2 separate regions of the Homo sapiens genome follow, and region 1 is linked to region 2. A link means that fine-mapping ties the variant in region 2 to the expression of a gene that starts in the linked region. Tissue or cell type: whole blood. Region 2 holds a variant in brackets; the other region holds the start of a gene. All regions are shown on one strand. Distances are between the middles of the regions.

What was found. PIP is the estimated chance that this variant, and not a neighbour inherited with it, causes the effect.
Region 1: it holds the start of PDLIM7, and the variant in region 2 is fine-mapped to the expression of PDLIM7 in whole blood (TOPMed, PIP above 0.99).

The regions. Positions count from the first base shown.
Region 1 is chr5:177,494,502-177,499,614 of GRCh38, forward strand. PDLIM7 (PDZ and LIM domain 7) reads right to left here and starts at 3,103. Exons shown (of 13, transcript NM_005451.5): 1 at 3,027-3,103; 2 at 1,916-2,022. The coding sequence starts at 2,011. RefSeq lists silencers at 211-360, 307-601, 2,299-2,378, 2,789-3,498 and enhancers at 1,755-2,496, 3,709-3,758, 3,977-4,716.
Region 2 is chr5:176,877,079-176,882,262 of GRCh38, forward strand. It overlaps UNC5A (unc-5 netrin receptor A), which reads left to right. Exons shown (of 15, transcript NM_133369.3): 9 at 114-201; 10 at 457-625; 11 at 816-1,049; 12 at 1,166-1,315; 13 at 1,397-1,561; 14 at 2,232-2,410; 15 at 2,643-3,820. The coding sequence ends at 2,808. HK3 (hexokinase 3) reads right to left here. Exons shown (of 19, transcript NM_002115.3): 16 at 4,866-5,049; 17 at 4,614-4,769; 18 at 4,224-4,457; 19 at 3,791-4,139. The coding sequence ends at 3,995. Among named protein-coding and RNA genes, the nearest start is that of HK3, 20 kb to the right of the region's middle. RefSeq lists a silencer at 2,877-3,242. The variant C/G (reference allele first, on the strand shown) is at 2,222.

The DNA.
Region 1 (5,113 bases), 620 kb after region 2:
GCTGTGGGCTGAGCCCGAGGTGGGGGTCTTGGGGTGCAGCTAGCTGGCTCCTGGAGAGGGGGTGGGGGGCGGGGACGGCTTCCCTTCCCAGAGTGAGGAGGGCAGGAAGCACAGAGGATGAGGGGTGTTCAGAGCGTGGGGAGGGCAGCAGGAGAGCAGAAGACAGCGCTGGGCGGGTGGCTGGAGAGAGGCAGGGAGGGGCTCAAGCCAGGGGCAGGGTAAGGCCAGAGGAACCAAGGAGGGAAAAAGCCAGGGGGCTGGACCCTGCATGAGGTGGGGGTGAGTCAGCCTGAGCAGCCCAGCCCCCCAGTCCCAGACGTTACCTCATCTCCCAGGCCTGGGCCCACAGCCAGCCCTTGCCCCTCCCACCTCCCTCCATTCTGGGGTCAGGGGAGGGGGAGGGGGCTGGCCTAACTCAGAAAAGCCCACCTCACCCACCCATGTGGGCCCAGGTCCAACTCCAGGGCTGGGATCAGCTAGTGGCCCCGCCCACATGCCAGGGATGCTGACCAGGGAGCTGGAGCCCGGAGTGCCCCCAACAGGCCATATCTGAAAGTCATCTCCATCAGGGAAGAAACTGAGGTTCAGGCTCCCCAGACACACTGGGCCAGCACTTTCCCAGGGAGCAGGACGTCAGGTAGGTTTCAGGGCTGTGTGAGGGCTATGTAGTGGGACGTGTGTCATAGGGCAACCACTGCCTCACTACCCTGCTGGCGGGGCAGGTTCCAGGAGAATGCCATCAAAGGACCCCTGAGAAGAGCACTGCTGGCCTGCCCACCCTAACCCCCACGCCCAGCTCCTACAGACAGACTCCAGCTTGAGCCCCTCCTCAGGCCACGACCCTCTGGGCCCCTCCAGGCTGGGCTTGCCTTGGGCTTCCTGACAACAGCTGCCTGCCCACCCGGCGCCTGGGTGGGTCTCTTGGGGCAGGCGGATATAGGGGCAGGAAGTCCCCACCCCCTCCTGACCCCCAGGCCAGTCAGAGATGCCAGCCGACAGGCTGGCCTCACCCACTCTGGGCAGGCAATTTGTTGTGTCTCACAACTGGACCATATAGCTGGAGCTGCAGCCTGGTGACCAGCTGAGAGGCCCACCAGTGGGGTTCAGGGGGCCAGGCCTAGGCCAGCCCTTTTCAGCTCTGCAGACCGCAGCCACTGTTGGCCATCCCAGCGTGGGGCTGCATTCTTGGGCTTATAAGGCAATCCCCCTGCTACAGGGAGGAGCCAGCCTCCAGCTCCACCCACACCAGGGCAGGCTCTTGGAAGCTGAAGTTAAGCCCCTAGAATGGAGCCCTGTCCTACACTTCTGCTTGGGGTCAAAGGCCACCACATCCTGAATGGGAACAGTGGATGTGGGTCCTTACATAGGCTGGGGAGAGACCCCTTCTACCCACAAAAAATGTACGCCATGCTGTGCCTCAATTCCAATCCCTGCTTCACCATGGACTCGATGAGCGAGCCCCGCCACCTCTCCATGAGTTCTTCTCTCATCTGGAAAAACGGGATGAGGATTGCTATTCCCTGGGCGGCAGTGAGGCTGAAGTGAAATCCTATAGTCACAGTGTCCTGCCTGGGGCCTGGCTCCAAGCATTGCCACCTCAAGTTTAGATACCTCCTGAAATGTTAGGCTCCCATCCTGCACAATGAGCCTCCCTCCAGCCCTCAGAGGTGGCCACAGGAGCTTGGGAGAACAGCATCGGGTACAGTGCAGGGCTGGAGAAGCCTGGGTGCTCCCTCCCAGTATCCACCTCATTGGGAGTCCTTGTGGCAGGCAGGTACCACTACATCTCCGGACCTAGACATCTCCTGGCCTGCTGGCCCCTGACCAGCTCCTGTTAGGACTCCCCCCATCACCCTCTGGAGACCTAAGCACCGAAAGACCGCTGGGGGAGCCCCCTCCCCAAACCTAGGCTCACCCGGGAAATGGAGAGGGGCACATTGAAGTCCTTGCCCCCTTGCAGCCGGAAGCCCCAAGGTGCTGGCCCCTCCAGCACTACTTTGAAGGAATCCATGATGCCGGCTCCTGAGAGGAGAGAAGAGAAGGTGAGTGGCCAGCATGGTGGGCGGGCAGGCAGGCAGGCCGGGCCAGCTCAGGATACCAGCCTTGGACAGGGGCCAGGCAGGCACGGGCAGCCCCTGAGCACGCCCAAGCCATAGGAGGCAGGTATTTTGTCAGGCTGGCCTGGGCTGCTGGCTGGCGGACCTCACTTTGGAAAGACAGGAGCAGCCCCCCTCCCCTTGGGACTGGAACGGTGAGGGGTGCCTGAATCCAGGCTTGAGGTTCTTTGCAACCAGGGGTGGGCCGAGGGACTAAACTGGCGCGGCCTCCCCCCAAGCCAGCCTGGAGCCTCGGGCGGCCGGGTGAGTCAGGGGCCGGCTCTCCTCTCCCCCGCCCCCAGGTCCCGGCAGGCAGGCCGCGGCTGGAGCCTGCTCGGACTATATAAGGCGTGTAAGCTGACACTGTGCGGAGAGCCAGCGGAGGGAGCACACGGGGGCTTGGGACGCGAGGGGGGGGGGAGGGGAGGGGAGGGGAGGGGAGGGGAGGGAGGCGGCTGCAGCGGATCCTCCTAGCCATTCCGGGACCAGTCGAGGCTGCTGGGAGCCAGGGCGGGACCCCTGGGTGCTGAAGAAGGGGAAGGCGGGAGTGGGGTGCGGCCCCTGTGGAGACAGATGGGGGCTGGGACCCTCAAGCATAGCTTGGAGGGGGATCCTTCCCCGAGCCCAGTGGGGGGTGGTGCCTCCCACACAGAACTGCTCCCACACCGACGTGACTCAGTTTCCCCTTAGTCCCCCGCCCGGGCCCCATGCATTAGACTGGCCCCGGCCGCAGGAAGCGGCGCAGGCGCCAATCGGCCCCGCCGCAGCCGGCTTAGCGGCAGGAAGGCGGGGGCGGGGGCGGAGGCAGGGGCCAGGGCCAGCGGGAGGAAGCACAGCCTGGACCACGACCCCCAGTGCCCTTTGTGGTCCTCAGCAGGCCCCGGGCGCCCGCCTGGTGCAGCCCAAGACGCCCCGCGCGGTCGTCGATACCTGCTTGGCCCGGCCAGGGCGCTGCTCTGCGTCGGGCTCCAGGGAGCCTCGTTGGGATCGGCCGCCAGTGTTCTGACCCCGCCCCCACAGCCACCCTCCACTTTGAGCGCGCGGACGGGGGCGGGGCACCAGGCCACGCCCTCGTCGCGACCACGCCCACTAGACTTTCTCCGCTGGTGGAAAGCCCCACCCAGCTCTTCCGTCCTGCCCAATCACCAAGTCCCGTCGGGCTTAGAGCTGAGAGGCCTCGCCGACCCGGGCCCTGCAACGGGGCGGAGTCGGGAGGGGGCCGGGGCTGCGGGTCGCCTCCTTAGGGAAGCGCTGCCTCGCCCAGTCCCTCGCACCGCCCGCTGGCGGAGGGAGAGGAAAGCGGACCTTCAAACCAGACCGACCTGGGACATAGTAGTCTCTGAACCTTAGTTTGCTACTCCGAAAAATGGGACGATCATACTCGCCTCGCAGGGCTGCCGCGAGTGTCGGTATCGTAGGCGCAACCCTCGGGGACTGCAGAATCTGTAAATCAGAGGGGCTGGGGGAGACAAGTTGAGGGGGACAGGGGCGTTTAAAGCTAGAGTTGCGCAACGCTCTGCCGAAGGCAGGAAAACAGGGCAGGAGCGGACGCCGGATGTCCCTGCAACCCCGAGCCGACCCGCGCACCGTCGGAAGCGCCGCGTCCCGCTCCACCTTGGCCAGAGCGGACTGCGCCGCCTGGGAGGCGTCCTCAGAGTCCCGGCCCCGCGTTCAGCCCAGGCACTAGGGCCGGCGGCACGGACACTGAGCACATGCGGGTGTCGGGGTGAGGGAAGGGGCGTCCACCCTCCACTCGCTTGGTGGTCCCGGCCCATCACCTCCTCCTAGGACAGAGTCGCTGCAGTTCTCCCCTCTCCATCCACAGTCATCACACCCACCCTGTTCTGCACAAACCGCCGTGAGAGTTCTCGTCGTTAAAGACCTTCTCTTGACCCCACATCCCTCTCCAGCTACTACCCTTTAATTCTCCTCTCGAGAGTAAAATTCCTCCAGGGAGTTGTCTGTTTATCGCGTCTCCACTTGCTTTCCTTCAGTTATCTCTTGAAGCCATGCCAGGCGGGCTCTTGTCCGCACCCGTCCCCTGAGATCTCTCTTCTCAAGGTCCCCTGTGGCCTGGAGGCCATGGGGCCATGGAATCCGTGGTGGTTAAGTTTCATCCTGCCCTGCCTAGGGGCAGCACTGGTCCAGGTTGATCCTTTTCCGCGAAACACCCTTTTTCCCTGGCTTCACAGCTTCCCCCTGCCCCACTGGCCCCTCCTTCCCATCCTCCTCTGCCTCTGGCCTTGGCCATCTGATGTCGCCTCTCTTTATGCTCACCCCCTGAGACCCCGTACTGTCCTGTGGCTTTCAACACCACCTATATGCAAAGGCATCCCATGTTTCATGGCCAGCCTGACCTCTCCCCAGGAACTCTAACTCCATTATCCAAAACCCTGCCTAGATGTTTACTAGATCAGGGGTCCCCAACTCCCCGTTTGTGGCCTGTTAGGAACTGGGCTGCACAGCAGAAGGTGAGCAGCGGCAAGCCAGAGAAGCTGAGTGCAGCGGCAGCATTAGACTCCCATAGGAGCGTGAACCCTATTGTGAACTGTGCATGCGAGGGATCTAGGTTGCTCATTCCTTATGAGAATCTAATGATAAATGGGCCGGGTGCAGTGGTTCACGCCTGTAACCCCAGCACTTTGGGAGGTTGAGGCGGGGGAGGATCACTTGAGGTCAGGAGTTCGAGACCATCCTGGCCAATATGGTGAAACCCCGTCTCTACTAAAAATACAAAAATTAGCTGGGCGTGGTGGCGCATATGCCTATAATCCCAGCTACTTGAGAGGCTGAGGCAGGAGAATGACTTGAACCTGGGCAGCAGAGGTTGTAGTGAGCCAAGATGGCTCCACTGCACTCCAGTGTGGGTGACAGAGCGAGACTCTATCTCAAAAAAAAAAAAAAAAAAAGAGTCTAATGATAAATGTACTGCACTCGAACCACCCTGAAACCATCCCCACCCCACCCCCAGTCTGTGGAAAAATTGTCTTCCATGAAAGCGGTCCCTTCTGCCAAAA
Region 2 (5,184 bases):
AGGCCGGGCTGGCACCAGTCAGTCCTCACAGGAAGGCTCCTGGAGGGGCTGTGTGGTGGGGTGTTGGGTGCTTTGGCAGTGGGTAAGCCCTGGCCCTCTTCCTGCCGTTCCAGGAATCAGCCTCCTCATCCCCCCAGATGCCATACCCCGAGGGAAGATCTATGAGATCTACCTCACGCTGCACAAGCCGGAAGACGTGAGGTGTGGCCGCGGGCCCTGTTGCCGGGGGTGGGAGGGACCTGCCTGCTGCCTTCGGTCCCCAGGAAGCCCCCTGCCCACCCACTGTTGTGCCTGGCCCGAGGCGGCGGGGGAAAGAGCTATGCCTAAGCCCCACGTGGTCCTGCAGCCCAAGCCCCTGGCCCCTGGGATGCTGCTGCCCTGCCCTTGGCCTAGCCCTCAGGACCCAGGATGGGCCACTGACACCTTTCCCTCCCCACCCATATTTCCCCACTTGAGGTTGCCCCTAGCTGGCTGTCAGACCCTGCTGAGTCCCATCGTTAGCTGTGGACCCCCTGGCGTCCTGCTCACCCGGCCAGTCATCCTGGCTATGGACCACTGTGGGGAGCCCAGCCCTGACAGCTGGAGCCTGCGCCTCAAAAAGCAGTCGTGCGAGGGCAGCTGGGAGGTGAGCAGGGAACTGACCCGGGCTCCAGAAGGGAACGTGGGCTAACTGCACGCTCCACCCGGCCTTCCACCGCTGGGTGGTCCTGAGCCGCACCCCCACCCCTCCCCAGTCTCCGGCCACTTCTTGAAGCCACAGCTGGCCCTAGGGCTCTGAGGCTGGGCCGAATTGACCCACTGACCCCTGCCCACAGGATGTGCTGCACCTGGGCGAGGAGGCGCCCTCCCACCTCTACTACTGCCAGCTGGAGGCCAGTGCCTGCTACGTCTTCACCGAGCAGCTGGGCCGCTTTGCCCTGGTGGGAGAGGCCCTCAGCGTGGCTGCCGCCAAGCGCCTCAAGCTGCTTCTGTTTGCGCCGGTGGCCTGCACCTCCCTCGAGTACAACATCCGGGTCTACTGCCTGCATGACACCCACGATGCACTCAAGGTATCTCCCGCCCCTCACCCCCCGCCGCTGGGAGGCCGAGCTATGCCTGGCCCTGTGGACTGCCTGCCTTGGGCGCAGTGGGGAGGGGCCTGGGCTGACCACCTGGGGCACTGCAGGAGGTGGTGCAGCTGGAGAAGCAGCTGGGGGGACAGCTGATCCAGGAGCCACGGGTCCTGCACTTCAAGGACAGTTACCACAACCTGCGCCTATCCATCCACGATGTGCCCAGCTCCCTGTGGAAGAGTAAGCTCCTTGTCAGCTACCAGGTGAGGGCCAGGGCCGTGGCCAGCGCACAAGAGGCCTGGAGCTTGGGCTCACCTGACACCTCCTCTCTGCATCCCCATCAGGAGATCCCCTTTTATCACATCTGGAATGGCACGCAGCGGTACTTGCACTGCACCTTCACCCTGGAGCGTGTCAGCCCCAGCACTAGTGACCTGGCCTGCAAGCTGTGGGTGTGGCAGGTGGAGGGCGACGGGCAGAGCTTCAGCATCAACTTCAACATCACCAAGGTGGACGGGAGGGGCTGCCGCACCGCCGTGACGTGCTCCCACTACCAACTCCCCACCAGCCCCCAAAACGCTCCTGCCCTGCCTGCCCTGCCACCCACTCTCCCTCCCGCCTGTCCCCAGGCCCACCTCCTCCTAGAAACCCCTTGGCAGCTTCCTCCCAGACTCAGAGACAGGGAGGCACAGGTGCAAATGGGACTTGGGGAGGGGAGTGCAGGGGACATGGGAGCAGCAGGAGGGGAGACCCTGGAGGGCTTCCCTGAGGAGGGGCTTTGTACTGGGCCCCAAAGAATGAGCCAGTTTGGCTGCGGCATTAAGGGGAAGAGCATTTCTGGCGGTGAGAGCTGGGCAGGGGGGACTCAGGCCGTGAAGAGAGCTGTGTGTGTTGAGTGTCAGCAGAGGCTGGGCAGAGTGACTTGGAGGGGAGAAGGGCGGAGAGGGAGGGAGGCCACAGAGGGCTCCTCTGCTCTCTGGCTATGTGGCTTTGGGCAGGTCGCTGCACCTCCGAGCCCCAGTAAGAAGGGCCTTGGCACATGGGAGGTGCCCAGGAAGTACCAGTGCTCATGCCGCCCCCATGCTCTGGGGGAGTCTGGGAGCTCCCCCAGCAGGAGGTGGCGGTGGACCCGGGCCTGGGGAAAGTTCTAACAGGCACCTCTTTCCCTC[C/G]CACCTCCAGGACACAAGGTTTGCTGAGCTGCTGGCTCTGGAGAGTGAAGCGGGGGTCCCAGCCCTGGTGGGCCCCAGTGCCTTCAAGATCCCCTTCCTCATTCGGCAGAAGATAATTTCCAGCCTGGACCCACCCTGTAGGCGGGGTGCCGACTGGCGGACTCTGGCCCAGAAACTCCACCTGGACAGGTGGGCGGGAGAGGGGCAGAGAGGGCCTGCGCAGGCCACCGACAGTCCTGCCCGGCGGCGGGGTGGGTGAGGTGGACAGGAGGCCCTGTGGGGCCTGTGCCGCATCTACTAGTGGCCGGGGCAGTCATTGTGTTTGGCTTCGGGGAGGCCCTGCCCTGGGGTGGGCCAGGGGGGGCAGGAGGTGTCGGCTGGGGCCAGGCCAGGCTGCTGACGGCCCCCCTCCCCTCCACAGCCATCTCAGCTTCTTTGCCTCCAAGCCCAGCCCCACAGCCATGATCCTCAACCTGTGGGAGGCGCGGCACTTCCCCAACGGCAACCTCAGCCAGCTGGCTGCAGCAGTGGCTGGACTGGGCCAGCCAGACGCTGGCCTCTTCACAGTGTCGGAGGCTGAGTGCTGAGGCCGGCCAGGCCCGACACCTACACTCTCACCAGCTTTGGCACCCACCAAGGACAGGCAGAAGCCGGACAGGGGCCCTTCCCCACACCGGGGAGAGCTGCTCGGACAGGCCCCCTCCCGGCCGAAGCTGTCCCTTAATGCTGGTCCTTCAGACCCTGCCCGAACTCCCACCTCTCCATGGCCTGCCTAGCCAGGCTGGCACTGCCACTCACACTCGGCCCCAGGGCCCAGGAGGGACAGTGCCTGGAGCCTGGGCCAGGCCCAGCCCATCTGTGTGTGTGTATGTGCGTGTGATGCTACCTCTCCTCCCGTCCCTCTCCAGGGGCCCCGCATACACACGGCCATGCACGCACACACTGGGCCTGGGCCAGGGCCCCAGAGCTCCTGCCTGAGCTGGACCTTATGCAAACATTTCTGTGCCTGCTGGGTAGGGGCACGTCTGAGGGGCCCTGCTCCAAGCCTGCAGGACCGAGGGCCACAGCCGGACAGGGGGTAGCCCCTGGATTCAGGCACACGACCACCACACGAGCACGTGCCACGCATGCCTCGTGTGCTCATCTCACACACACCCCCCTCCCGGGTCACGCAGACACCCCCCAACCACACACATCTCATGCTGTACACCTGAGGCTGCTCACGTCTCACGCCCAGTGTTGGTGCACATTTGCCTCTCACATGCTGCCCTCTCCACCCACCCAGGGACACCCCACGGCTCCTCCCTGCCCCTGCCCCTCCCCCAGCCTTGAGGTGCCCTGCCCGGCGGGGCCTGTGAATATGCAATGGGAGTCCCAGGCTGTACAGTGGTGAGTGTGTGTGTGGCGTGGCGTGCCCGTCCCCAGGGCTGGCTGGTGCCCCACGCGGGGCCTGTCATGTGAAGCTCGTGTCCTGACTTTGTCTTAAGTGCATTCACGCACTTACTCTTGGCCTTATGTACACAGCCTTGCCCGGCCGCCGGGGCACATAGGGGTTTTATCGGGCGTGAATGTAAATAAATTATATATATATATTGCTAACCTGAGTGCTACTTCTCTCAGGGAAAGCCAGGGAGCAAGGCCAAATGGCCGCAGAGGGGTCACACATGGGATGTCCCAGGAGTCCTGGGTGGCTGGGCCTGGCTGGGAAACAGGCAGACCCCGACCCGGCTCCAGCAAGGCTGCGGCGGAGACCTCCTCAGCCTGGAGGTTTCCTCAGACACGAGTCAACTGCGCAAGGCGGCAGGCAACAGCGGTGACCAGGGCCGCACCTTTGCCGGACCCATCCTCTGACTGCAGGAACGTGACCACACAGCGAGGGGCCAGCTCCCGCACTGTGGCCGCCACCAGGCTGGAGAAGCTGTGAGAGGAGGGCTGAGGTGAGCCCAGGCCACCAGCCCCACCTGGCCACACCTCCCTCCCCAGCCCGCACACCCAGACTCACCGCGGGTGCAGCTTGTAGAGCGTTCCATCCACCCCCACAGACACTGCCAGCTCTTCCAGGCCCCGGTTCTCCCGGATCTTCTCCACCACGGCAGCTACACCCGCCCCACAGAGCTGGGCAGCCCTCTGGGACACAGCCTGGCACACCTCTAGCACCATCAGGGCGTCATCTGAGGTCAGGGGTAGCCCCAGATCCTCTAGGATGGCTCGGACCTGCCGCAGGGCCAGGCTGTCACTGGGGGCCAGGAAGGAAGAGAGCACAGGGAGGTGGGTCGTGACTTCTCCCACTTCATCCTCCAGAGCAGACCTCGTCACCACCCATGGCCAGCAATCCCCCACAGTGGACAGAAAGACCCCCTGAAGTGGGGGAGGCAATGTAGGCCTCAGGCACCTTTCGATCTCAGAGAGGAACTTGGTCTTGAAGATGTCCCTGGTCTGAAGGCGCTGGATCTGCTGGCCCCGGAAGAGAACGCCAAGGCTGGTTAAATGTAAAAGGATGTGGCGGACGATCTCCCCCAGGTACATGCCGCTGATCATCTTTTCAAACCTGCATGAACATGTGTGCACTCGGCAGAAGGCCCCACCAGCCACCATCCCCAGCACCGGTCACAGCCAGCCACCACTGCCTGGGCCCAGCCCACACCTCTGCTTGCCGGGGTTGATGGACGCCTGGTCCACACTTGCATCAAAGCGGGTGCTGAGCATGGCCAGAGAGCCATCGTCCCCAAAGGCGCCCCACTCCATGTTGATGCACATGCGGCCTGAGTCCCCAGGCACGCCCGCCACATTCCGGAGCTCCTCCATGTAGCAGGCATTGGTGCCGGTTCCTGCAGAGAGGCCAGACAACGTGGAAGCTACTTACTGATGTAGACAAGGACCCTCTGAGCACTTCCCATACCGAGATGGCAACGATTCGGGCTCACTCTCTCTACCTCTCATGCTCACAGCCTGTCCCTGGTCCT